Linked DNA regions of Homo sapiens. The protein of the gene in region 3 purifies or fractionates together with the protein of the main gene of each other region. This does not show direct contact. Each region holds a gene or a part of one and is shown on either strand. Other genes may lie near its edges. The genes, in order: PAICS, CALD1, WTAP and FMR1.

What was found.
Region 1: the proteins of WTAP (region 3) and PAICS purify together in Homo sapiens (affinity purification with mass spectrometry; 2 studies listed by BioGRID and IntAct, with this or other methods). This does not show direct contact.
Region 2: the proteins of WTAP (region 3) and CALD1 purify together in Homo sapiens (affinity purification with mass spectrometry; 2 studies listed by BioGRID and IntAct, with this or other methods). This does not show direct contact.
Region 4: the proteins of WTAP (region 3) and FMR1 purify together in Homo sapiens (affinity purification with mass spectrometry; 2 studies listed by BioGRID). This does not show direct contact.

Annotation. Positions count from the first base shown.
Region 1 is NC_000004.12:56,439,240-56,446,267, reverse strand, and holds part of PAICS (bifunctional phosphoribosylaminoimidazole carboxylase/phosphoribosylaminoimidazole succinocarboxamide synthetase), read right to left. Parts: intron 4,606-7,028; coding exon 4,408-4,605; intron 1-4,407. UniProt on the Homo sapiens protein: Bifunctional phosphoribosylaminoimidazole carboxylase and phosphoribosylaminoimidazole succinocarboxamide synthetase catalyzing two reactions of the de novo purine biosynthetic pathway.
Region 2 is NC_000007.14:134,929,612-134,936,639, forward strand, and holds part of CALD1 (caldesmon), read left to right. Parts: intron 1-3,376; coding exon 3,377-4,466; intron 4,467-6,076; coding exon 6,077-6,154; intron 6,155-7,028. UniProt on the Homo sapiens protein: Actin- and myosin-binding protein implicated in the regulation of actomyosin interactions in smooth muscle and nonmuscle cells (could act as a bridge between myosin and actin filaments).
Region 3 is NC_000006.12:159,737,491-159,744,518, reverse strand, and holds part of WTAP (pre-mRNA-splicing regulator WTAP), read right to left. Parts: intron 5,530-7,028; coding exon 5,474-5,529; intron 4,661-5,473; exon of another isoform or gene 3,077-4,660; coding exon of another isoform or gene 3,072-3,076; intron 2,432-3,071; coding exon 2,373-2,431; intron 855-2,372; coding exon 727-854; intron 1-726. UniProt on the Homo sapiens protein: Associated component of the WMM complex, a complex that mediates N6-methyladenosine (m6A) methylation of RNAs, a modification that plays a role in the efficiency of mRNA splicing and RNA processing.
Region 4 is NC_000023.11:147,942,900-147,949,927, reverse strand, and holds part of FMR1 (fragile X messenger ribonucleoprotein 1), read right to left. Parts: intron 6,798-7,028; coding exon 6,602-6,797; intron 5,060-6,601; coding exon 4,877-5,059; intron 4,395-4,876; coding exon 4,312-4,394; intron 1,246-4,311; coding exon 1,084-1,245; 3' UTR 1-1,083.

The DNA.
Region 1 (7,028 bases), on a different chromosome or scaffold from region 3:
TTTGTTTGGGATGATGAAAAAGTTCTGGAAATGGATAATGGGATGAATGTACAACATTGTGAATGCACATAATGCCACTGAATTGGACACTTAAAAATGGTCAAACTGGTAAATTTTATGTATTTATCACAATTTTCTTTTAAAAAATATCAGGAGCCTATTTTATGGCAGATATTGTTCCAACCATTTTAAATACATCTTTTTTGTTTAATCCTCATAACATTTGATAAGATACTATTAAGATCAACAAAACAGGTAAGGACACTAAGACACAGTAGTAATGTCAGCTAGTATTAGGTATAGCAGGATTTCCAACCTACCCTGTCTCTAGGAGCCGCCCACTTAACCACTTTGCTGTATTGCCTCTCCTGGAAGTGTTATTACATCACAGTACAAAGTAATGCTACAGCATTAACATGATTTAAAATATCTCCTGGAAACCTACATGGGTTTGAGATAATGCTTATTTTCAGCCTGCATTACTATTTCCAATCCCAACCTAATCCTCTAGTCTAACTTTTATTATCAGGAAAGAATTGGGGATCTTTGCTGTTATATGTGTATCTGTACATGAAGGGAGCTTCTATTTATGGAAATCCTCCACTGTGCTAAGTGTCTTATATATGTTGTCTCATTTAACTGTGCATAAAATTTTGAGGTAGGTTTTTTTGTTTTTTTGGTTTTTTTTTGAGACAAAGTGTCACACAGGCTGGAGTGCAGTGGCGTGATCTTGGCTCACTGCAACCTCCGCCGCCTGGGTTCAAGAGATTCTCCTGCCTCAGCCTCCTGAGTAGCTGGGATTACAGGTGTGCACCACCACGCCTGGCTAATTTTTGTATTTTTAGTAGAGACAGGGTTTCATCATGTTGGTCAGGAACTCCTGATCTCGTGATCTGCCCACCTTAGTCTCCCAAGGTGCTGGGATTACAGGTGTGAGCCACCGCGCCTGGCCTTGAAGTAGGTATTATTATTTATACATTTTACAGTGAAAAAAACAGAGGCTCAAAGAAGTAATTTCACACACTAGGTCATGTAGCCATTTGGTAATGGAGCCTGGACTTGAAACGCACTGTCCAAACCCTACACTATTTCCTCTGCCCTCTCTTTGAATCTGACTCGTAAGACTCAAATGAAAAAAAGAAAGAATTGTGGTATGTTGCATGAACAGAAACCCTAAGGAAAAAATGAAAAGAGGGGAAGTAAAACTGTCATTTTAACCTTTAAAAAAAAATTAGATGCAATCTGTTGTTTAACTTTTAATGAATGATCAGGCTCATGGATAGACAGGTGACTTCAATCAATTCTCAACTTGGGGTGGTAACTACATCCTTGGTTTCAAGAGCTCTTCTCTCTTAGATCTGTTAATCATTAGTCACATATTTGCTCATTTGTCTACCAAGCTGGACACAGTAGTATCCAATTTTATTGTTTTTAATATAAAGATAACTTCGTCTTAGAGAGATCCCCCCGCCAATCCCAAGGAGAACCAAAAGCACATAATGAAGCTACAGTAATCATCTCTGCACAAAAAATCCCTAAAAGTTTCTAAAACAGACTCAGTTTAGATGACATAATGATGGCTTCTAATACTGCTAAATATGAAAGCAAATTCCATGACTGTGCATGGTGAGAAAAAAATTCCCATTGTTTATCTTAGTTGTCTACAAAGCTCAAAACTCTCATTCAGGTTACTAAAAAATGTTTATGTCACTGACACACTCTGGATTACAATGAACATATATTAGCTAGAATAGTAATTCTAGCTAATACATATGTCCCCGTGGCCATCCCTCTTTTAGATTGGTCCAGATGCCCATCTGTGGTTTAGCAACTGTAGTACCGTTCTTCATATACTAGTATTACACTTAATGTAATTATAGTGAGTTTCTGTGAGGAAATTGGGATTTCATCATCACTAAGAAGGCCAGATTTTAATTTTTAAGTAATAAAACCAAATCCACAAATTGTATAACACAGTTATAACACAGTTATACTATTTCCACGGAAAAAGATTACTTCTTATTTATATAGTCCTTTACAGTTTGTTCCTGAGTGACAATGAGAAAAGTAGAATCCTGATTTTCTGATTCTCATTCCAATGCTCTTTCCTCTCTACTTTCTACCTTAATTTGGAACACAACCCAGGTTGTAAAGAAAACAGTTTTAAATAGACCACTGATGGCCAACTAGATAAGGCATTTATTTGACTAAGCAAGTAAAAATTACATAAGGTTTAATGGAATTCCTAATATGTACCCTAAAACTAGTCTGTTTAGAAATTTTAAAAAATTCAGGTTTACTTAGTTTCATAGTACTAGACATAAAATCTGGAAAATATCTTTCAACATTTCCTGTGAACCAGTTAAGTTTTAGCTATGTTAAGTGCCAAATAAAGTAGTTTAAAGATAATTATTGGAGTATTTCATTTAGGTAACCATCCTTCCCTGTTCCCCTGATCACAGGACTCTTCAGAATTAAAGCAGAAAGTCCTGGACAAACATAACACAACTGAGTCACTCTAATTTACTTGTTATAAAGTTCTGGAAATGGATAATGGGATGAGTGTAAATACACTCAGAAAATACACTAAATAAGCAAATAAAAAGTCAGGCTTTATCTTCCATTACTTAATATAATCCTGTAGCTATGTGAAACTACCAAGGGTACACAGAAAGTAATCTTCTGACTGCTAACATTTTAAAGAGTTAAGCACTTTAAAAAATGTTTAAGTGAATGGGGAGAGTTAAAACTTGGGAAGAAAAAAAAAAATCGATGGAACAGGCCGGGTGTGGTGGCTTACGCCTGTAATCCCAGCACTTTGGGAGGCCAATGCGGGTGGATCACTTAAGGCCAGCAGTTCGAAACCAGCCTGGCCAATATGGCAAAACCTCGTCTCTACTAAAAATACAAAAATTAGCCGGGTATGGTGGCGTGCACCTATAACTGTAATCCCAGCTACTGGGGAGGCTGAGGCATGAGAATCGCTTGAACCCAGGAGATGGAGGTTGCAGTAATCCGAGATTGTGCCACTGCACTCCAGCCTGGGCAACAAAGCAAGATTCTGACTTAAAATAAATAAAAAAATAAAATAAATAAATAGATGGAACACTTATCGGTATTGCAAAAGGAACCCAAAATTAATTTGATGCTCTCTTTAGAAATTACCTCAGTCATTGGGAAGCTACCAATCAAGAAACCTTGAAATAAAAATCTTAGATTCTGTGACTTAGGAACTCTGGAAGATCCTTTAAATTTACAGCAATACACTCACTTTCACAGCATAGAGGAATTTATGATGTAGATGACAATCCAGGTTTGCAATTAAATCTTTTTCACATTAATCAAAATTGTGAAATAGGATACTTTGGAAGAGACAAAACTACGCCAAGAATGCACTGACAATGTATTTAAATTACATTACCTTGTTATTTTGTGGAAGGCACGTACATCTAACTTAACTGAAAACAAAAGCATTAAATCCCCTGTTGAATTTAAGAAAGATTAGTGCTACCAGAAACTCTAAGAAATGAAAGGGCAACTGGGAATATTGGAATTAAAAGTAAGGAAAGTTATTAAATTATAAAATTAGAATTGGCAAGAATGATAAAGAAAAAGCTTTTATTTCATAGGTAAGGTTTCGTAGGTTGAATGATCCAAAGCAATGAGGCTATTTACACTGTGTGGCAAGAGTTCAAATCTTTTCCTAGCTGAAATTTCATATACTACAGACCAACCAGCAACTGACTGAATCCCTGCAGAAAACCCCTTTATCCTAATTTCCTTCCCTTTGCTTCAAATACCCACCACACAATGTTCTGATCTTCATTTGGTCTTTTGAATCTATTTCTCTATTGAAAATAGAGCCTTCATTCAGTTTTTGAACAGGAGGGCGCTCTGGGGTTTTAGTTCAAATATCTCACTTGGGGAATGGCAGGAGGAGAAGGTTTGGTTGCTGTCTTCAACTACTTTTCAGGGCTTTCAAGTGGAAGAGGAATTTGAAATTCTGTATTATCTCCCAGAGGCAGAACAAAGACCATTTGTATAGAATTACAGGGAGTAAATTTCAGTTCTTCATGTTAGAACTGCTTAACATTAAAATGGGTTTCCTTCATAGTTAAATTCCTTAAAGTGAAGATGGCCTTGGAGAGGTAAGCTGCACAGAGAGTGCATGTGCCAGATAAAGATTACAGCAAACTTGTTAAGATTCCTTTTAATTCAATGATACTAATAATCCCAAACCAAATAAGGTGTTATAGTGAAGTTTAAGGGTTCTTGGTTTGATTTAAATTCACTTAGCTTTTGAGACATCTGCAAACAAGTTGTTCATATTAATGCCAACTTCACATGAAAGACATCGACATGCTTACCAGAGAAGGTGAGAGAAGAGACTTTGAGGGAGCTGCTTACCTGCTTCCTGTAATAACTGAAAAATACAACTGGTGATTTTATTTGAGATTGCAGCTTTTCCTTCCAGGTGGTTTTTTCTAGCTGCATTTCCTGCTGTAATCTGGTCCTTGGACTGCAGGAGGACTTTTCCTGGACTGTCTAACAATTCGTAGACTTCTTTTGTTTTACCCTCATATAATTTTTTACCAATGTTCAGTACTGTGGAAATAAAATGGAAATAGACCAAAATTCAGAAACTTCCTGAATGCTGAAGACTAAATCACCTAGAACAATTAATCTGTAAATATACAGTGATTAAGTAATATTAATAAAAATTAAATCATCTGTATAAAACCATATACTCTACAATGTATTTCTCATACCATCACATTTGATTCACATGATCTTGTGAAGAATTTTAATTACATAAATAATTGTAGAAATTAGTAAAGCAGAAATCAAAAGGGTTGAGGGTCATGCAGTTAGGAAATATAAGAGGTAGATAAAATCCTAACTCCTCTGACATCAAATCCTGTGCTCTTTCCACTATTAACCTGCCTCTCATAGCAGAACTGAACTAGAATTAAAATTAATTAAGACCCACTTAAAGTAATGTAACTATACTAGTATTTTCACAGACACACTCACAGTATAGTATCTAAACTATCTTGCAGGAAAAAATATGCGATTTTTGCTGATATTTGCTTTTTTGTAGGCAAAATGGGAACATTCAGCCAGATGAGTTTCTTGATTTCAAGTTAATATTCAAGAGGAGGCATGCCATCCCATTGAAGTTAGCACATTTGGAAGCATCCCTCTCTATTTCTTAATCCTGTCCCTGCCCCCATTAATCCTTTCTCTTCACTAACAGTTGTAAGAAATTGTGAGGAAGTGAGCACAAAGGAATCCAATTTTGATGCTGGTCACAAAACCTAAGAAGTACACAAAAGGATGATTTAGAGAAAGAGTAAAGATAACAGATGTTTAGGAACTTAAAATTTCGAAAGAGAGAAATCAACCCTCATACTTCCACAACACTCTCAGTATCAACATTTTCCCGGTGTATCCATGTGCCAAGGGATGTACCAGTAAATAATAATTCCTGCTCTCAAGAGACCTGAGTCTGAGGGGAGCTGATATTAAATAAGACATCATAATAATAGAATGCAATAAATACAGACTATGGGACTAGTCTAGACATTAGAAAAAGAAGTCTACAAGAAAGTGACAGGTTGAAATCTGAAGAATCATCGAAATTTAGCCAAAGGAGAGAAAGGGGTAGGTAGTGTTGATGAATAAATACAAGGTGGTCAAAGTGGATTGCAGAACTTCAGTCTGGTTGGAGCTGGAGCTCTGGGTATATGTACATTGCTGTTGGGCAGGGGAAGGGGTGGGGGCTGCAGCTAAAGAATGGCAGGAGACAAGACTTAAGAGTTGGACAGGGGCCACATCACCAGCTAGTGGAGGTAACCATTAAACAAAGTAGTTGTAATTTAGTTAACAGTTGCCACTGTAGGGCACCTAATTTAGAGGATGAATCTCTACCCTCCCTAATGTAATGTCTAGACTCATTAACATGGTTTAAAAGTCCCTTTAAGATACAGCCCTGGCTTACTGCTCCAAACTCTTATTTGTCTATTTCCTATCTAGAACTCCAACATCTTTAATTCTTATACAATCTTCCCCTAGCTTCTGACAATCTCTTCTTTCCTAGGCCTGGAAAACTTCCCTTCCATTTTGCTACACATCCTTCTTGTTTCACAAGCCATGCTGATTGAGTTTAGACTTTAACCCAAGAAGAGCTATAAGGCTTTTAAGTGCTAAAGCAAAACGCTATTTGGAAAGATCATTACGGCTTCTGTATGGACAATGAAGGGAGGAAGGGGTGAGTGAACAAAAACTAGAGCTTGGAAGACCAGTTAGGATGCTGTTGCAGTAACTTGAACAAGAAACGTCTGGCCAGGTGCAGTGGCTCACATCTGTAATCTCAGCACTTTAGGAAGACAAGGAGGGCAGATTGCTTTAGCTCAGGAGTTCAAGACCAGCCTGGGCAACAGGGCAAAATCCCATCTCTACCAAAAAAACAAAAATTAGCCCAGCATGGTGGTGCATGCCTGTAGTCTCAGCTACTTGGGGAGGTCGAGGCCGCAGTGGGCCAAGATTTGCACTATTTCACTCAAGCCTGGGTGATAGAGTGAGACCCTGTCTCAATAAAAAAAAAGGAAAAGAAAAAGAAATGTCTTGGTCTAAGGAAAGAGTAGTGGGCAAAGATGCAAGATATTTAAGATAGTAGCTTTGAGAATTCATCATGGAGGATAAAAGAGAGGGAAGGGTAAAGAACAGTGGGCCGGGAACAGTGGCTCATGCCTGTAATCCCAGCACTTTGGGAGGCCGAGGCGGGCGGATCACTTGAGGTTAGGAGTTCAAGACCAGGCTGACCAACATGGTAAAATCCTGTCTCTACTAAAATTACAAAAATTAGCCGGATGTGTTGGTGCACGCCTGTAATCCTTGCTACTTGGGAGGCTGAGGCAGGAAAATCGCTTGAACCTGAAAGGCGGAGGTTGCAGTGAGCTGAGATGGCGCCACTGCACTCCAGCCTGGGCAAGAGAGGGAGACTCCGTCTCAAGAAAAAACAAAAA
Region 2 (7,028 bases), on a different chromosome or scaffold from region 3:
GTATATATACGTGTGTGTGTGTGTGTGTGTGTGTGTATATATATATATATATATATATACACCACATTTTCTTTACCCACTGCTTGGTTGATGGGCATTTAAGCTGCTTCCATATTTTTGCAATTGCAAATTGTGCTTCTATAAACATGCGTGTACCAGTATATTTTGCATATAATGACTTCTTTTCCCCTGGGTAGATACCCAGTAGTGGGACTGCTGGATCAAATGTTAGTTCTACTTTTAGTTCTTTAAGGAATCTATACTGTTTTCTGGTAGGTTATATCTTTAAATAAGGAAAAGTATTTACATTTATTCTGTAGGGTGTTGCTATCTGTTTTGAACTGAAGATATGTTAGTTTAGTAGAGTCCTCCATGGCTACCATTAATAGGTAACACGTGAATTTTTAAAGTGGGCATGAATTGCAGATGTCTTCTTTTTTCTAATATACAGCCTGAATCAATAGTCTCTGATCATTATAATATTCAACAAGATACAGAATTCCGCTTAATTTAATGTGATTATTCAAACACACTTAATGAGTTTGCTATTACGTATTTTCTCACTCGGGCCCTGGTTGAAATCAGGGAACTTGAGAATGCCTAATAGGTTCAACTTCTTCAAAGAGGGCTTTTGCAGCAGAAATAAGGTCACATGGTTCATTATGCTAATGGTTAGTATATGTCATTTATATTGTCATTTATGTGCCCCAAGGTCTAAAAAAGATGAGGATATTTGAGGAGGAAAATGGAGAAAATAATTTTAATTTAAAACCATGGACTGATTATAATGGTTACACTATATAAGATCTCACATGTGGTTTTGGTTTTAGTTTGTTTTGTTTAATTCAGTCTATTTAGAAAATTCTAAAGGGAATGGGTCCTGGCCTCCTTAACCCAAGTTTGAGAGGCTGTATTAGAAGGTTTCAGAAAGCAGTCTTGAAAATGTTGGCCGGTAGCACAATATTGTTTACCCTTTCCCTCAATAAGTAGCTTCTAATTGGGGAGTAGGTATAGCAAAGGGGAAATAGGTATAATTTCTAGGGTTCACTAATTGACTTTGACTCCCAATTTGACCTTTCACTAACTGTATTTCTTCAGTTAAATGGAAATAAAAATTATACCTTTCTCCAAAAAATGCTGCTAAACTTAAACTATGTAACAATACATGTAAAATGCAGTGTCTTACACATAGTAAGCACTCAATAAATTTTCACTGTTACCAGATTCTTAACACGGGAGGGCAACGTAGTCATTCACTGCCTTTTCCATTTTCAAGCTGAGAGAGAAATAATAGAAAGAGTTTTAAAAATGGCATTTTGATGCCTTTCCTGAATCTTGTTATTAATGAGTGGTCAACAGGAGCTTTAAAAATTACTGGTGATCTGTAGTTTTCTTGCTTTTAAAATCTTGCTTTTCCTTGTGCTTCTCTTCGGATATTTGGCTGTTATTCATTATTTCATGCTATTAATTGAAATCAAATTCTTTTTTTTTTTAGAAAATCATATTGAGGTCTGAGAATGTGTGATTTATCTCTGACATATTAGTTAGCCACAAGAAGAATAAGTCTTCTTGGGGCTAAACAACTCTAACTGGCATTTGATATCTACTGATAATTGTGGTCATGATTTATAAATAGGCAAAGAAATGTTCAATACAGTTTGTTGGTTTCTTAGCATAAGAGTACTTTAATCTGGCTAGCACTTTGGAATTTTGGTGCCTTTTAAAAATTATTAGAATTCAATTGATCCAAATGGCCCCTCTATAGACTTCCCCTTAAATTATAAATTTTTTGCATTTGTAGGGACATTTAATCCTTATATGTCTAATTTCATGGAGGCAATATCCTGAAGCAAAAGTAAAGGCCAAGAAAGTTTTAAAGCTAGTTTTTACTCTGCCATTTTCATTGTTAAATATGAAATGTGTTTTTTCCAAAATTAAGTGAATTTGAACGTTGAAAGGGCCAAGTTTGGTCTGAACTATGAAATTTGATGGAGTTTCTAAACATTGCAAGACAAATTCTTCCAACTCTGGTCACAGTTCTGGTATCACATGACTGGTTGTTTCCTGCAAATAGAAACCAACACCCTGGCTTGGACAGTGTCCAGCATCCTGCAGTAGTGAGGGAGGTGATGGACAACAGTTTAACTTTTGGAGATTTTCTTTCCTTTTTAAAATAAATGTCAAATTTAACTGCCCTTTTTCCACTGTAGAAAAGATGGACAAGAAACCCTTTATTCATGGAAATCTTGACAAAGAAGGTAGATTGTGTATACATTAGTTAGGGTAACGCTGGCTGCTATAACGATTAGTGCCCCCAAATTTTAAGTTTAGTGCAGTAACACTTACCATTATGCATATTTCTGTCTAGTTGGTAGAACCAGCCACCTGTCTTCTTTTCTCTTGTGACTCTCAATCCCTAGGGCTTGGTGCTCCCTGATCTACCAACAGACAGAGATAGAGAAGACAGGGAGTGCACCTCTGTTTGTTCATTGCCTTGGTTGGACACTTCTGTTTACATTTCATTGGCAGTTATTGGTCACATGGCCCGCCTAGGTGCAAAGAAGGGAGAGGGTGCAAATTTAATCCTTGAGTGGTGATCACTCCCCCCAACTATGGAAGGAGGAGCAGGAATTGTAAGGGACACTTAGATGTCTCTTCCATTGGGGTCACTGGCGTGAGTGTGGAATCTCAACACTGTAATGTACATTTTCTTCCTCTCAAAGTACCTTGGGAGCCTCCAATCCAGATCAGGAATTCTAGATGACTTGATGACATGGGAGAATACTACATGACATGGAAGGAATTCACTTATTATTTCAGTTTGATCCTTAAGTTTGAATTCCCCAAGAAGCAAGTCCAGAAACAACGATTTGACTGCAAGTCGTTTATTTGTAAGGTGATGCTAGGAAACACTGGTGGAGGTGTGGGAAGGTAAGACAGAAAAGGGAAGGCCACCAAATAAACGTTGCATGACCAAGCACATCACCACTGTGGGTATCTGGAGCTTCACTCCACTGGGAAACTCTGAGATCCAGTGTGGAATACACACCTCGGAGTTATCCCACTCAAAAAGTGAGGGGTGCTGAGGTATCTAAACACTCAGGCTATCAATTTTTGTTTGAAAACTGCTCCCAGGGGACATTAATACCGAAAGCACTTCTGGCATGTTGAGTAGACTCCAGTCCCCAGAGAAAGGCTTGCAAATGCTGTCAGCTGAAAGCCAGGCAGGCGTGTACTAAAATGGTAACGTACTGGGGATATGGGCAAGCTTGGCACTACTGGCATCTGCTGTAGTCCTGGGTAGCACAGGCTGTATGAATGCTGCTGACTGATGAATGAGCAAGCTGTCTTTGGTGTTGTTCTTTCTGTTGTACAGTGTGCCTGACGAGGAGGCCAAGACAACCACCACAAACACTCAAGTGGAAGGGGATGATGAGGCCGCATTCCTGGAGCGCCTGGCTCGGCGTGAGGAAAGACGCCAAAAACGCCTTCAGGAGGCTCTGGAGCGGCAGAAGGAGTTCGACCCAACAATAACAGATGCAAGTCTGTCGCTCCCAAGCAGAAGAATGCAAAATGACACAGCAGAAAATGAAACTACCGAGAAGGAAGAAAAAAGTGAAAGTCGCCAAGAAAGATACGAGATAGAGGAAACAGAAACAGTCACCAAGTCCTACCAGAAGAATGATTGGAGGGATGCTGAAGAAAACAAGAAAGAAGACAAGGAAAAGGAGGAGGAGGAAGAGGAGAAGCCAAAGCGAGGGAGCATTGGAGAAAATCAGGTAGAGGTGATGGTGGAAGAGAAAACAACTGAAAGCCAGGAGGAAACAGTGGTAATGTCATTAAAAAATGGGCAGATCAGTTCAGAAGAGCCTAAACAAGAGGAGGAGAGGGAACAAGGTTCAGATGAGATTTCCCATCATGAAAAGATGGAAGAGGAAGACAAGGAAAGAGCTGAGGCAGAGAGGGCAAGGTTGGAAGCAGAAGAAAGAGAAAGAATTAAAGCCGAGCAAGACAAAAAGATAGCAGATGAACGAGCAAGAATTGAAGCAGAAGAAAAAGCAGCTGCCCAAGAAAGAGAAAGGAGAGAGGCAGAAGAGAGGGAAAGGATGAGGGAGGAAGAGAAAAGGGCAGCAGAGGAGAGGCAGAGGATAAAGGAGGAAGAGAAAAGGGCAGCAGAGGAGAGGCAGAGGATAAAGGAGGAAGAGAAAAGGGCAGCAGAGGAGAGGCAGAGGATAAAAGAGGAAGAGAAAAGGGCAGCAGAGGAGAGGCAAAGGGCCAGGGCAGAGGAGGAAGAGAAGGCTAAGGTAGAAGAGCAGAAACGTAACAAGCAGCTAGAAGAGAAAAAACATGCCATGCAAGAGACAAAGATAAAAGGGGAAAAGGTAGAACAGAAAATAGAAGGGAAATGGGTAAATGAAAAGAAAGCACAAGAAGATAAACTTCAGACAGCTGTCCTAAAGAAACAGGTACAGTAAACATTTTGCACCAAATGTGTGATGCCTGTGACTTGTGAGAAATGTAATGCACATCTGATTTGGGACTGAGGCCACATGCATATAGCTCACATGCTTGATCATTTGGCAAGCTGTTCATTTTTTCAGGCCATAGCGATACACAAGCATGCAGCAATTGATTGATGGCTGAATATTCAATCAACCAAATTTACTGGGACAGCCAGTAAATTTGGCTGTCCAGAAGACAGAGAGAAATTAATTGCTCTGTGCTTGATTGTTATGAATACCCAAAAAAAGAATTAATCCAAAGATGATAAATGTGGTGGTGGTGTGTTGGCTTCTGATTCTGTGCTTGCATCTAAACTCGTTCTTTTAATTATCTTTCCTCTATCCATAGGTCTGCATGAGGCAAGAGGCCCATAACTCCTTACCTCACTCATGGGTTTGACGTTGAATTAAAAAAATGATAAAAGCTGGGGTGGGAAAGAGACATGAAGAATAATGGTCAGACATTTCATCTTAAGAAGGCAAAAACAGGCTGGGTACAGTGGCTCACACCTGTAATCCCAGCACTTTGGGAGGCTGAGGTGGGTGGATCACAAGGTCAGGAGATCGAGACCATCCTGGCCAACATGGTGAAACCCCATCTCTACTAAAAATACAAAATTAGCTGGGTGTACCGGCACATGTCTGTAATCCCAGCTACTCAGGAGGCTGAGGCAGGAGAATCACTTGAACCTGGGAGGCAGAGGTTGCAATGAGCTGAGATTGTGCCACTGCACTCCACTGGGCAACAGGGAGAGACTCCATCTCAACAACAAAAACAACAACAACAACAAAAAGGCAAAAACAAACCCCTGGAAATTAACTGGTAATAAAGAGGGGGAAAGGAACTGGTTGGAAACTTTCCTTAAAAAAAAAAGTCAAAACCCTGATTTGCCAACATGTAGACCTCAGCTTAATGTAGACTTGCAGAAAGCCATTAATTTAGGGTAGTATTGATTTATATTTGACTGGTAATTAAGAGCATACATGCTGCTTCTTTATTATCTGGGTGACACAAATTCATGTGGCCTGAGGAAGGGTGGAAATAGTAGGGGGGAAATGTTTGTAAGCTTTGAGAAAGATTTTTTTTCTGTCTGCAAGACTGCATTGAAAGCACTGTACCTAATCACCACCACACCACCACCACCACTCCTAAAAAAAGAAAAAAAGAGATGCTTTCACATTCACCTTTCCAGAGCAAATTCTCTGTCACTAAGCCTGCATTGCACTGAAGGTATCTTTAACTCCTGCTTCTGTACAAGAGGCTCATGAACACAGCTAAAATTGAGACCATGAGCAAAGTGCACCAAACCACACACGAGGTTTGTAAACACACGAGGAGTGCCACATCATGCTAGATTTCAGTGAGCGCAATGGCAGGCACACGAGAAGATGTTGGGGTGGGAAGAAAATATCCCACCTTGCTGTTTAGAACCACTGTGCTGTGAGCGCTGAGACGGCAGAAGAGAAGCCATCCCACGCAGCACTTGCAAGGCGATCCGAGCACCCTGTCACTCTTGTAAACTAGAAAGGGCTTCTTTTACTTGTGTGACCTTACCATTCTTGAAAATAAAAAGGGAGAAGAGAAGGGAACTAAAGTGCAAGCTAAAAGAGAAAAGCTCCAAGAAGACAAGCCTACCTTCAAAAAAGAAGAGGTAAATATGATTGAAAAGTAATGATCGTAAAGCAACAGAAAAAGCAGTCAGTGTTCCAAGATATCTCAGGTCTGATGATCTCAAAATTGTAACCTCATATCCAGTGTATTTCAAGCCATGACTCACAGTCCACTGAATAGTGAGATCAGCTTAGAGTGTCTCAAAATTAATTAAATGTATCAGTCAGCATTTTTTAAAAAATGAAATGGATAGAAGCCATCAGAGGGCATTGTAGGTAGTAAGTATTGCATTGTCAGGTAAATTGTCTTTTTTTCTGTGGGACGTCATCAAAAAGGCTTGAAAAACACTGCTGGAATCAATTTATCCTGTTTTCTATTCTTCTGAATGCTAATTTTTTTTCCTTGAGCCATTCTACTTTCATTTCAATCATGAAATATTTCCAACTGGCCTTGATTAATGCTTTAACTTTTCAAAGGAAAAACACCCACACACATCTCAGTAGAAAATATGGTGAACTGAAGATGATATTTGGTTTTCAAAAGAAAAGTTTGGCCAAATGTTCTGCATTGCATTTCTGAGGCACACACAGGAGCGGGTGCCAGGGTATTTGACTGTAGGTAAGTGAACAAGGAGCTATACAGATAGAATGGCACGGGGTTTGACAGTAATCAGAACACCACATCAGAACACTTGATTGCACTTCAACTCTCATGCTGTGTTTGCCCCAAATAATCTTAAAAATTGTGACTATATCGAATAAGTTCACAATACTTATTAGGATGTGGTGAAACTGAATTATTTGAAGTAGGAAGACCCGAAGTTCTTCGCCTATGAGACTGGTGAAGTGATTTGTAGCCAACATGCTCCAACCCATCTATTAAGAAAACTATGGCATCTATTAAGAAAATTCAAA
Region 3 (7,028 bases):
CCATAGATTTTTGGTGTCTCCAATGACCAGAATACTATCTTAGAAGACTTTAATAACACATAAGAAGACTTCTATATGTACCAAATGAAGGGAGAGTACACAAAGAATTGAAGAAACATTCAGATTTTAAAATCAGAAACAAGGATACAGCTGCCTCTAATTATTTTGTATAATTACACCGTAAGATTGAGCCTAAACTACCAGAGCTGGATGATCAATTATGTCACTAGATTTCAGATCTACGTAGACATAGTAAATACTACACAGTACACATCAAAGTTCTAACAATTAAAAAGGAGACACTAAAGAGGTTGCTGACACTAGGAAAAACAGTTCTATACACAGAGGGGACAAGAGAACAGAGATAAAGTCCTCAGATGGCTTTCCTAATCAGTGAAAGTAAAGCAATAAAGAGCAAATGTTCTTTTATTGATTACATCCTCAGACACCAAGATATCTGAAAAATGTCTGGAATTGATGAACTAATACTTATAAGGCATGAAAATTTCAAAAAAAACTTAAAACTTTGCCTTCTTGGCCACAAAAAACAGTCTAAATGAGACATTATCAAAATTTTTCATCTAGTATTCTTAAAGCTCAAAGCATACGTACCTATAAAAGATAAGCTCTTATATTTAGCATTAAATGTTTAAAATTAACATGTAATAATGTGGACTAAAAACCAATTCCTCAACTAAAGACATTTATATAACTTGAAATACTTACAGTACACTCTTGCATCTCTTGTTCCTTGGTTGCTAGTCGCATTACAAGGATGTTTTCCCTGCGTGCAGACTCCTGCTGTTGTTGCTTTAGTTTTTCTTCAGACTCTCTTAGGCCAGTTACATCATTAGCTGATGATTCAAAAAAAAATTATAAATACAATTTTAAGATCAAGTTCTAAATACCTCTGTCAAGAACAATAAGAACTAGGGTCAAAAAATTAATCAAGTCTTTAGTTTCCATCCTAACTACTTTTATAACAGGCGAATTTCTTCCTGGTCACGAGAGCTCCTTTAGGAGACAATGGTGTCATAGTGCTCCATGACTACTAACTAAATTATGTTTTTATAGTTTCATCTACTCCCAACAGAAGACAGAAAACATCTGTGTTATACAGTATTCACAAAATCCTGATTAGTATGTTTTAACCTATTTAATATAAAAATGCTGTCTGGGCACAGAGGCTCACGCCTGTAATCCCAGCACTTTGGGAGGCTGAGGCAGGTAGATCACCTGAGGTCAGGAGTTTCAGACCAGCCTAACCAACACGGTGAAACACCGTCTCTACTAAAAATACAAAATTAGCCAGTCGTGGTGATGCATGTCTGTAATCCCAGCTACTTGGGAGGCTGAGGCAGGTCAATGACTTGAACCTGGGAGGCAGAGGTTGCACTAAGCCCAGATTGTGCCACTGCACTCCAGCCTGGGCAACAGTGCGAGACCCTGTCTCAAACAAACAAATAAATAAATAAAATAGTAATAACTGCTGGACAATTTGTATTTTAAACTTGAGGCAGGATCTTATTCTGTTACCCAGGCAGGAGTCCAGTGGCACAATCAGGGCTCACTGCAGCAGCCTTGACCTCCCGGGCTCTAGTGATCCTCCTGACTCTTTTTTTTTTTGTAGAGACAAGGTCTCCCTATGTTGCCTATGCTGGTCTCAAACTCCTGGGCTCAAGTGATCTTCCCACCTTGGCCTCCCAAAGTGCTGGGATTATAGGTGTGAGCCACTGTGCCTAGCCTTAAACTTTCACAATGTTCATGACTTCTATGGGTAACACAGTCACGCAAAATTAGAATTTCAGGGTATTAACCCTTCTGAAGTTACAAAACAATATATATTGGTTTTTATACTCAACAAATAGTATGTGATTCAAACAGTAAAAAGTGAGACTAAAATGGCTTAAAATGATAAACGTTATTTTCAGCAGATTTAAAAAAATCTGTATATATTATTAAGTTATATATATTGATTTAAGCTGTCATAAATCTGTTACTGGTTGCTTCTGTTTATTTCTCTTCTAGACTAGTAACTCATGCTTCAAGTCAAATTCCTATGCAGAAGGGGTTAGGGACAAGTAAGAAAAGTTTCAAGTAGTTCTGAGTTACTGCATCTATATTCAGAACCTTGCATATAATTTTGCTAAGTCATGCCATTACATGACTATTACACCTCTGTCTTCTCCAATGACTGAGACTGTGTCTCATTCATCTTTATATTTTCTTGCACCCAACACAGTGCCTATGTACAGTTCTTATAATAAAACACGAGAAAAATTACATTTGCTTTAATAAAAACAACTATCCTTTTGATTTTAACAATCAAAAGGAGATTATTCAGTCTTTAGGAAGCTAAAACTCAAACTTACAGTTAAGATCTGTGTACTTGCCCTCCAAAGCTTGTACATATGCTTCATATTGTTTCCATCTAATAAAAAAAAATCCATACATTAGTTGTTACGATAAAATAGTTTATTAAATAAACTAGAAGATATCTATAAACTCACAGATTTTAGTAATACTGAGCATTCTTCTGGATTTTTCATTTTAAATCTAGTTTTTTTTAGACAGAGTCTCGCTCTGTCCCCCAGGCTGGAGTGCAGCGTGGCGCAAACAGGGTCTGGGCTCAAGCGATGTCCCTGCCTCAGCTTCCTGTATAGCTGGGACCAAAGGCACATGGCTCATTTTTTTGTAGAGATGGGGTCTCACTACGTTGCCCAGGCTGGTCTTGAACTCCCGAGCTCAAATGATCCTCACACCCTGGCCTCCCAAACTGCTGAAATTACAGGCCTGAGTCACCACACCCAGCCTAAATCTAGTTTAACTGATCATAAAATAGTCCCTCATTATTCCTTCCCATTTTACAGGAAACAGGTAAAAAGAGATATATAGAGAAGGTTTTTTCTGCTGAGAACATGCCAAGCATGCCCTGGGTGAGATCAAACCCCAGATTCACTTTGATATCACTGATGTTCAGGATAATCCTGGATTATAGAAGCTGAAAAAAAAATCCCACTGCTGCTTTCATATGTTGTCCACTTAGAACAAAAGGCATATTAGAAATGTGCCTCATTATGTAGAATTGAAGGTTCTTTATCTTGGCTCTTTTGGGAAAATACCATGTGACTCTTCTCAAGGTAGTATCAATTTCTGCCTGTAAACACAGGGGGAGAATATAACATTTTTCAAGACTGTAATTTAACAATCACATCTAACTGTCAGAAACCTGCATAAATGCCATATGCTATCAGAATACAAGGGGACCGTTGTTCTTCATTATACTTCTCTACCCTGAATATATACACTGCTAGGTCCTCTTAGCAATAAAGATTTTTCCTAGTCTTATTAGGCAGTTCCTAATGGAAAGCACCCTGCCCTGAATGTCTGCTATCCTGCATACTTAAGAGCCATGTTTTCAAGCTGCTCTTCAGGTACAATTAATTAAAATTTGGCTTTAGAAAACCATTTTATAATCTTAAAAACAGGCTTGTCATGAGTTATTAATATTACAACATAATGAACAAAAAGGCTCGTGCCTGTAATCCCAGCACTTTGGGAGGCCGAGGCGGGCAGATCATGAGGTCAAGAAATCAAGACCATCCTGGCCAACACAGTGAAATCCCGTCTCTACTGAAAATACAAAAAAATTAGCAGGGCATGGTGGCGCATGCCCGTAGTCCCAGCTACTTGGGAGGCTGAGGCAGGAGAACCGCTTGACCGGGAGGCGGCGGTTGCAGTGAGCCGAGATCGCGCAACTGCATTCCAGCCTGGTGACAGAGCGAGACTCTGTCTTAAAAAAAAAAAAAAGAAAGAAAAAAGAAAAAAAAAAAACCTTCCTAATACCAAACTAATCCACTTTCTATGTAAACACTGATGTTCAGCCAAGGCCATGCTTTATTTTTACGGCACTTACAACCTAAGACACGTAGTTTACCAAATATTTGGGGATGTATAGAGAAAGATCTTCAGTGGAGGCTATAAAAGAACGATTTATTTTAGAAGTACAGAAAAATATAAAAACTGAAGCAAGAACATGTATATCACAAGGATAGAAGGCACAGACTAGTTAAATAAGTAGCAGCTGGTTTAAAATCTCCAAGGGAATCAAAGAGAAAAAACTCGCCTAAAAGTCTTACATGAATTCCCTAAGGAAAGATGTTAAACTGACCTCAAGGAAATACACTGCATATGATTTAGAAACCTTAAAGGTATCTTAAAATAAAACATTTCTATGATTCTTTATTAAGATTACTGATTTTTCCCCTCCTACAGTTAAATCAAAAAAATGACTGCACAGACTAACCAGAGCAATTATGTAAGAAGGCATTAAAAAAAGTATACAATGCCAGAGACAGGGAAAAAAAAAATCATGGCCAGGCATGGTGGCCCATGCCTGTAATCCCAGCACTTTGGGAGGCCAAGGTGAGAGAATCACTTCAGGCCAGGCATTCAAGACCAGCCTGAGCAGCACCTCACCTCTATTATAATTTATATGCACATTAAAACAAACAAAAAAAAACCCAGCATTGAGTAGTAGTGTATCTTAAGTATATACTTCAGCATAAGACAGAAGTGTTTTAGAATAACAAAAATTTAAATTTTATGTGCAGAAAGACAAAGGTATGCAATGGAAACTGTCCTATGTATGAGATTATGGCAAAAAAAAAAAAAAAAAAAAAAAAAAAAAAAAAGGTAAAAAGTGTGTTCATAATACAGTAGCTGTCCAAAGGTGAAAGTAGGAAATTGTCACACTCTAGGAAACAACAAAATCTGTGTTAGCCTATCTCACAAAACATCTTTTCTCTCCTCCGCTTTCAGCCTGTTAAAATACTTATTTTATTTTTATCTAAGTTATCAAGAAACTTACTAACCATAGCAATAAAATACAGAAAGAATATATTTAAATTACAAAACACAGAACATCCTACTTCCTGATTTCTTACACAATCTAAAAAGATTATACGTTGTACTTGACAATCTGCTTTTGTAAGACATTTACAAGATAACCGCAGAAATTCAGAACTGGAAGTCACCTTTAACAATAACTTAACCCAACCTCTTCAACTTACAGATGAGAAAATGAAGAGTATGAAGTTATATGAGCTGGTGAAGGTCACACTAATAAGAAAAAGTAACCTCACTTCATTAGTAAATTATGTATTTCTTCCATAAATATAAGTGCATCTTTTAGGATTACATTTCTTTTTCAAATGTTAAACACGAAAGGAAAAACTACACAAAACAAGCCATATATTTGTTAAACTTATAGCTTCCTAGTAGTTCTTTAAAGTGTTACGTTTTCCTCGGTGTTAATATAAGAAATAGGTCATAGTATGCTCAAAAAGTACATTAAATTATTTGAGGATAGAACAACATTAAAAACAATATCTGGCACAAAGACAATTACAGTGTAGAGTCACAATATAATGTTCTATAGAAAGACTTTGTTTTTGAACAGAGAACATTTTACCTTAGAATTAACTCATCTCTTGCCATAACTTTGAAGTCTGTTTCACTCAATCGAACCTATAAAGAGAATTACAATATGAATTTAGTGTTCTTCCTGAAGACACAAAGTTCTATAATGAGACCTATGAAACATCTCCCAAGTGTGAGATTTAAACGGCTCAGTACATATTATGATTTTTTGAAAAAGTATTTTATTACAAAAGTTTTTTTTTTTTAAGGTAAACTATTTGGTATCTTAACAATGGGCATCATCATTAGGAAAATGCACATTAAAACCCCAGGTATCACCACACACTGATTAGAATGGCTAAAATAAAAATTAGTGGCAACACCAAACGCTGGTGAGGATTCAGAGAAACTGAAGTTTCCTACACTGCAGGTGAGAATATAAAAATGGTATCTGAAGAAGTATGGCAGTTCCTTTTATTAATACAACTAAAAATGAATGTGCCATATAACTCAGCAGTTGCACTCTTAAACATGTATCTCAAAGAAATGAAAACATGCAAGCAGCTTTACTTGTAAAAGCTAAAAAACTGAAAACTATCCAAATGTCCTTTAACAGGCAAATGATTGAACTATCATACAGCCACACCATGGAACACTTTAAGCAATAAAAAGAAACAGGACTACTGATACATGAAACAATTTGTATAAGCCTTAAGGAAACTGTGCTAAGTGGAAGGAAAAAAAATAGTCTCAAAAAGATGCATACTACATGATTACATTTATATAACACTCTGAAGTAACAATTATACAAATGGAGATAAATTAGTGGTTGCCAGGGGTCAGGCATGGAGAGGGACGGGGTAGATGTGGCTATAAAAGAATAACTCGATGAAGCTTTATGGTGATAGTTCAGATATGTATCTTGATTAATGATGGTTACACAAAGCTAGACATGATAATAGTGCATATAGCTCTTCCCCACTTCCCCCAATAACAGTGCTAGTATAACGTGAAATGTGAATAAGCTCTGTGGATTGTACCAATGTCAATTCCCTGATTTTCACAGTTATTAGAGATGTCTGCTAGTCACGCAAGGTGTTAACAATGAAGCAGGCTCAGTGAAAGTTGCACAGAACCTCTCTGTACATTTATTTGCAACTTCCTATGAATCTATAATTATTTCAAAACAAAAAGCTGAAAGAAGGGCATAAGCTAACATGCTTCAAAAATTGAGAAACAGTATATTCACTACACCAAATAAAGGCTGTAAAGGTGAGATACCTCTCCTACCTCAGTATAAAATTAAGGCTTTGGCTGGGCATTGTGGCTCATGCCTCCTGCACTTTGGGAGACTGAGGCGGGAGTATATCTTGAACTCGGGAGTTCAAGATCAGCCTGGGTAACATGGCAAAACCCCATCTCTACCAAAAAATACAAAAATTAGCCAGGCGTAGTGGCACACCTGTAGTCTGAGCTACTTTGGGGGGCAAAGGTGGGAGGATCGCATAAGCTGGGGTATGAGGCCACAATGAGCCAAGATTGTACCACTGCACTCCAGCATGGGCAACAGAGTGAGACTCTGTCTCAGAAAATAAAAAATAAAAATA
Region 4 (7,028 bases), on a different chromosome or scaffold from region 3:
ATGTTTCTTAGACAAAGTACCTGTACTTTGCAGGATTATTATGCATACATGGAAATGACCTTCCTATCTCTCCAAAATAAGCTTGAAATTAAAATATGAAAAATTTCACAAAACTTGGGGCAGACAAAATTAAAAAAAAAAAGCTCTAAGTTAAAATTGGTCATCAGGCCAAAGAGCAGGCATATCCTACTAACTTTCGACCAGGAAGATTTGTTCCTAGCTGAAAACATTTTAGCCTCTCTCAGATGAAGATAGTTCTTTCTTCTCCTGTCTATACAGAAAAATTACACATCTCTCTCAATAACACTATTTATCAAACTTCAGTGCAACAAAACAAAAACAAAAACAAGTCCTATTCTTTATACTGCCTAACCTGATGTTTATGTAAGGAAAAAAATATGGAAAGCATGCATTCTTCTATAAAGTACTAATGTTTGACAGGGTTTGCTACATCTTTAACATTTAGTGTTTCCAACTTATCTTCCCTGAACTCTGCATCCAAATATAATATTCCTACCTGCCAAGATATAAAAAAGGCACAGATCATACAACTTTTTTTGCTAATGAAAATGACAAATGTCACATCACACACATTTCAGGGTCCACTAAAATACTGGAAAAGTGGACCAAAACATAAACTGACACAGGACATGAAATGACATAGCATTTCATGAAGACTTCTATACGAGATTGAAAACAGAAGTCTAATATGATTACCATAAATGCTATATATTAAGAAAAACTGAGAATGTACTGGTGAATGATCACCCAATGCAGGAAAATGGTCCAAATTAACAAAGAATATCACTGCTCAGTACTTTAGAAAATAAAACTAAAATCTGCCCTGAAGTGCTAAGTAGTTTTAAAAGCAATGTTTCAAATTTTAAGGTATCTTTTTGTGCAAATCTGAAAATTGTTGCTTATGGCCAATACCAAAAAATAAAAAATTCTTAGCATAATTTGTGTTCATTTCATGCCCTGTGCCATCTTGCCTACTATTTGTCTTTGGCCTAACAAAGTTTTCTAATATGGAATAAGAATTACGGAAATGGTATAGGAAATATAACTTCAGAATTATGCAGTTTAGGGTACTCCATTCACGAGTGGTTGCTGACCATCCACGCTGTCTGGCTTCTCTTTCTTCTGGTTACGATCTTTACCCGTGCGCAGCCGACTACCTTCACTGGAGGTATTCTGTAATGTTTTAGTGTGGACACTCCTTTCATTATTGCAGTCAACTCTGATCTAAAACAAGTTATAGTTGTTATATACACAGACCATATCCTACTGTAATCTGTAATTGGCCTGACAAGAAATTTAAACCTGAAGTGTAAATTCCACATGTTAAAAAGAGAAATGGAGATGAGAACAGAAGAAGTGCAAGAAATTAATGTAAGGTAGGATTCTTTATTTGGTTTATGATTTTAAAACACTCTTCTTCTTTAACTGGAACACACTGGTCATCTCACTGCATCCAAAGTTAGAGAAAAACTCACAATCCTATCATGTCTTCTTCTAAGTAGAATAAAACAGTGAGAAACAAACAGGTAAAATGAATTACTATTACTGATTACCAGAAGACATACATGCCTCTAACACTAGAGTTAAAATAAAATTAGTTATTCTCCAAAGATTGTGAAGCCCAGGAAAAGAGAAACAAAATGTTTTCCTATTCTGGCTTTACCCTCAAATAACTCACTAACTAGACTTTAATTTACATCTTTATATCTATCACAGGTATGATCAAGTTTCTCTATACTGAGAGCTCCCATAGTCATACAGTAGAAAAACACGAGCTTTGGTTTCTACTGGCTTGTATTTCACTAAGAAAATTCAGATGATCCTACAACCTGAACTCTGTCTGAAGAATGGAACAGTATAAAGAAAACTGCATATAATAATTTGTGGAAGGACTGGAATCCTAGGAGAGTATAAAGATCAATGTAATTTAAAAAATAGTGTTCTAAGAGCTATAAAATATTTTAAGTGCCAATGCTGAATACAGCACTGCTAATTCCAGAGGTACAAATGAAAGTTAACAGTGACAAATGGAACTAAAACAACTACAAATATTGATCTACTTCAAGCACAAATGCTAAAAACATCCCCAAATGGTTGTAATTTCAAAGTATGTTTAAGTAGTGGGTATGTGCATGTGTTTTAAATGTCTCGTTACCAAGGATTCAGTACTTTGATTTGTATCTTTTTTTTTTTTTTTCCCAGACAGTCTCGCTCTGTCGCCCAGGCTGGAGTGCAGTGGCGCGATCTTGGCTCACTGCAAGCTCCGCCTCCCAGGTTCACGCCATCCTCCTGCCTCAGCCTCCTGAGTAGCTGGGACTATAGGTGCCCGCCACCATGCCCGGCTAATTTTTTGTATTTTTAGTAGAGATGGGGTTTCACCATGTTAGCCAGGATGGTCTCGATCTCCTGACCTTGTGATCCACCCGCCTTGGCCTCCCAAAGTGCTGGGATTACAGGCGTGCGCCACCGTGCCTGGCCCTTTTTTTTTTTTTTTGAGATGGTGTTTTGCTCTTGTTGCTCAGGCTGGAGTGCAATGGCAAGATCTTGGCTCACTGCAACCTCTGCCACCTGGGTTCAAGCGATTCTCCTGCCTCAGCCTCCCGAGTAGCTGAGATTACAGGTGCCCGCCAACACGTCTGGCTAATTTTTTGTATTTTTAGTAGAAATGGGGTTTCACCATGTTAGCCAGGCTGGTCTCGAACTCCTGACCTCAGGTGATCTGACCACCTTGGCCTCCCAAAGCGCTGGGACTACAGGCGTGAGCACCGCGCCTGGCCAGATTTGTATCTATTTTCATACTTAATAGAGAAAACATCACCTTTTAAATTCAGTATTCCATTTCATTTAGAAATATAAATGTGCATCCTTTTAACCAATGCAGTTAGACTGCCAAGTTCATCAAACATATCAGTTTAAGTGGAAAATTACAAAACGGGTACTTAAATATCTTATAGCTTTGTAAAAGACAGGTACATACAGTAATTTACCAATCTATCTATCCCTTGGACATGCTGGTCCTTAAGAACCCACCAATAGTTAACACTTACTTTGAGCTGCTATGAATTCCAAGAAATATTCCATCATAAACTTTGTCTTAAAAAGTATCTCTCACTAATCTTGGGTGATGGTCCCAAATGAATCCATAGTCAGGAAGGAACCCTAACTACTTAATAATTAAAAGTTACAGAAAAAGTAGACGACAACATAGATTCAGAGAATCAGACACTAAGGTTTGACTATCATTTGGACATATGCTAGCTATGTGACTGTGGGCAAAGGACTGAAGCTACAGTGCACTCACCTATAAAGTGGAATAATAAAACTACCTCAGTGGGTTGCTGTAAGATTAAATGAGATAAAACATACACAAAGCACTTAGCAAAGGTGCCTGGATGTGCTCAGGAGATAATTTTAAAATTATTTAACAATTGGTTTAGCACTGGTGACAGCCAATTGAGAAGAGATCCTCGGACTAGGTCCTGGCTGTAAATAAGCAGATGACTGACCAAGCATGGAGACTAGCTGAATATCATCAGCTCTGTCTATCATGATTATTAGTTGTAAGACAGACACCTTCTTTTCCTTATTTTCTATTCAAAGAGAATACCCTATCCCTGTTAATTTGGGGGAGCAAAGACACATAAGGTTTACTGAGGTCTCTAAGTACATCCCAGGATGTTCCTTCTCTGGGGGATTGCAGGTCTACCAATGTGGTATTAAAATCATAGTGTGGCTGGGCACAGTGCTCACGCCTGTAATCCCAGCACACTGGGAGGCCAAGGTGGGCAGATCACCTGAGGTTGGGAGTTCAAGACCAGCCTGACCAACATGGTGAAACCCCGTCTCTACTAAAAATACAAAAATTAGCTGGGCATGGTAGTGGATGCCTGTAATTCCAGCTACTCAGGAGGCTGAGGCAGGAGAATCACTTGAACCCGGGAGGCAGAGGTTGCTCTGAGCCGAGATTGCGCCATTGCACTCCAGCCTGGGCAACAAAAGCGAAACTCCCGTCTCAAAAAAATAAAAATAAATAATAAATAATAAAATCATAGTGTGGCTGTCAAGGTCTTCACAAATACTCAGACTGCATATTCTCTAGAGAAATCCTCTTATTTGTATACTTGTCACAAAGAACTAAGATTGACTACAATTGTAATGTTGAAGGTAAAATATTTCACATAAACTGGATTTGTAATCTTTGAACATGTTTTTAATAAAGTAAAATAAACTCATAAATCTCAAACTACCATATTCAAACAATTAAGATGAAAAGAGGCAGACAGGTTTTACCTGAAGGGATCCATCTGTTGTTCTTCCTTTAGCCTCTCTTGGATTACGTGGACGATTATCTGTTCGGGAGTGATCGTCGTTTCCTATGAGAATATTTTCAAAAGGTTCAACAGTTACTGATTCTGAAATGCTTACTGGAAGTTCTTTATTCCCACACCCTCTATTTAAACCAACCACAGAATCTGAAATGTAATCAATACCCCAGTGATTCCAGTTACACAATGGCTAATAATCTAGCCTGCTGCTAAGTAACAGAAAATATTTCACAGTTATTATAATTCTGCATCTACAGGTCAATGTGAGTTAATGAAGGGATGCTGTTTAGACCCACCAAGATGCTGAATTAGTTATCAGCATTTATTCATATATCTGTATGAACCATAAGGAAGGCTGCCTAATATTCTTTCTTTCTACACAAGTGGAAGGCTGATCCTTTCCTATGGTATCAGCACAAAACGGGAGAGATGGGATCTTGGTAACAGTTCATTGCATCAATAGGATTTCTCATGGAACTTCAAGACAGCTGTTACAATTCACTTTGATTTCTTAATGAAGATCTCCATACCTTTGAAGCCTCCTCCACGTCCTCTTCCTCCTTGTCCTCTTCCTCCCCCTCCACGCCGCCGTCCGTCTCCTCTGCGCAGGAAGCTCTCCCTCTCTTCCTCTGTTGGAGCTAATGACCAATCACTGAGTTCGTCTCTGTGGTCAGATTCTGTTTCAGAAGCATTTGATGCTTCAGAATTAGTTCCTATCGAGAGTTAAAAGTTATATACCATTGTCTGACTTTAAAAAAAAAAAAAAGAGGGTTAACAGAAGCTTCCAGAGACGTTTCAGGGGTAATCCAAAACTCTTCCCAATTTATAAGCCCACAAAGAGTATTATCACTTTCCATTTCATAAAACAAAATTTTAAACTCAAAATGAAGGGCTTTGCAATATTTGAGGTTAATTTTGGTTATAAACATGTTTCATTCTCATTTTTAAAAAGGTATGTTATTAGCCACCTAAGTTCAAACCTTGATGTGCCATATCATTAAATAGCTGTGTTCCTTTAAACATCTATACTCTCTGGAGGAAAAGATTATCCACGACAGTTAAGTGTGATACCCTGATAAACAAAACCTCTAAAAAGAGAGCTCCTTTTAGCAAGATTTGGCCCAGGACAGAGGGGAATGTATATATTTTGGTCATTTCTGAGAGGGTGGCAAAGGAGGCCACCATGGCAACTGCTTCAGGGAAGGGTCTCTTGTGGGTCATGGATTGGATCTAGCTGAAGGCAGATACATGCTTGCCTGATGTTTGGTCCACAACCTGCCCTCCCACTCCCATTACAATAATTGATCATTAATAAAGAATTACTATAATAAATTCATTATGCCTGAAGGGGTTAACGACTTAGAGGACAGGAGCGGAGAAAAAGAGCTCCACGGTGAGGCAGAAATTCATGAGTAAAAAGAACAGACTGTTGGGAGAGGGGTTAGGGGTTAGGTTCAAGGTTGGCCTTAGGAGTAGGTAACTCTCCCCAACTCCAGAATATCAGCTCTACTACCTCTCTCTTCCTCTGTTGGAGCTAATGACCAATTATAGCTTCACCATTATAGCTTCATTCCTGTGGATCTTGAAGGCTTTTCCATCTTAAAGAGTTCCTTTTTGAAATGCAAATATGCGTGAAATGGATTATACCTTATACCATCATTAGCAAGTTACAAAGGAGATACACTGTTGAGCAAGAAAGACAGTAGGCACTGGCAGGTGGGGATCAGGTTCACTGAAAGGTACTGGGAGAGAAGAAAGAAGCACGGACAGAAAAGCTGGGAAGGCAAAGAGAAACTTCGCCTACTTCTTGACTGTGCCTAGGGCTGACTTTGGCCATGTCACTCAAAATCACCTTATGAGCCACAAGAGGCAGACCCCTGATTTACACAGTCCATCCAGCAAGTATGACCAGCACATACCTGACAAAATAAAAATGAGCCACAGTACACAAATGAAAAAAGTTTTGACTATACAGTTATAAAATCAGGAGAGGCCTTAAGAAAATCATCAACACACAAGGGCTTTGCAGATTTACCCCCAATCAGAGCATGAACAGAACTTGCACCGGCCCTGTGAACTCTACGTGTTTATCATCAGGTTTTTACTCTATGTCTCCTGTAACACAATTTAACCCACTGTGAATTGGAAACCATGTAGCGGCAAATTGTTATAATGGGGTTCTAATGAATATTAGAGATTAGCAGCTATAAGTCTAGGAACAGATAAAGTTACTGAGTAAAATGCTTAGTTTGTACCTGAAGTATATCCAGGACCGCGTCTGCCGTGCCCCCTATTTCTGTAAGGTCTACTACCTCGACCCATTCCTTGACCATCATCAGTCACATAGCTTTTTTCCTTATCTGTACGATTTGGTGGTGGTCTAGAACTAGCTCCAATCTGTCGCAACTGCTCATCAATTTGTAATCTCTCCAAACGCAACTGGTCTACTTCCTATTTAAAATATACAAGATAACAGTAAAAATAATTTGACATTTTACTTAATAAAACCTTTCTCCTTTTCATCAGATAAAAATATACTGGAATATTTCAATTTCAGTTCTAAATTTACAGTAAACACTGTTACACAGAATTATCAGGAAATTGAATGATCTCCTTAAAAAGAAAATTACTACAGATAACAGATTATTGATGTCAAGAATTAGAGATATAACAAAAACACTC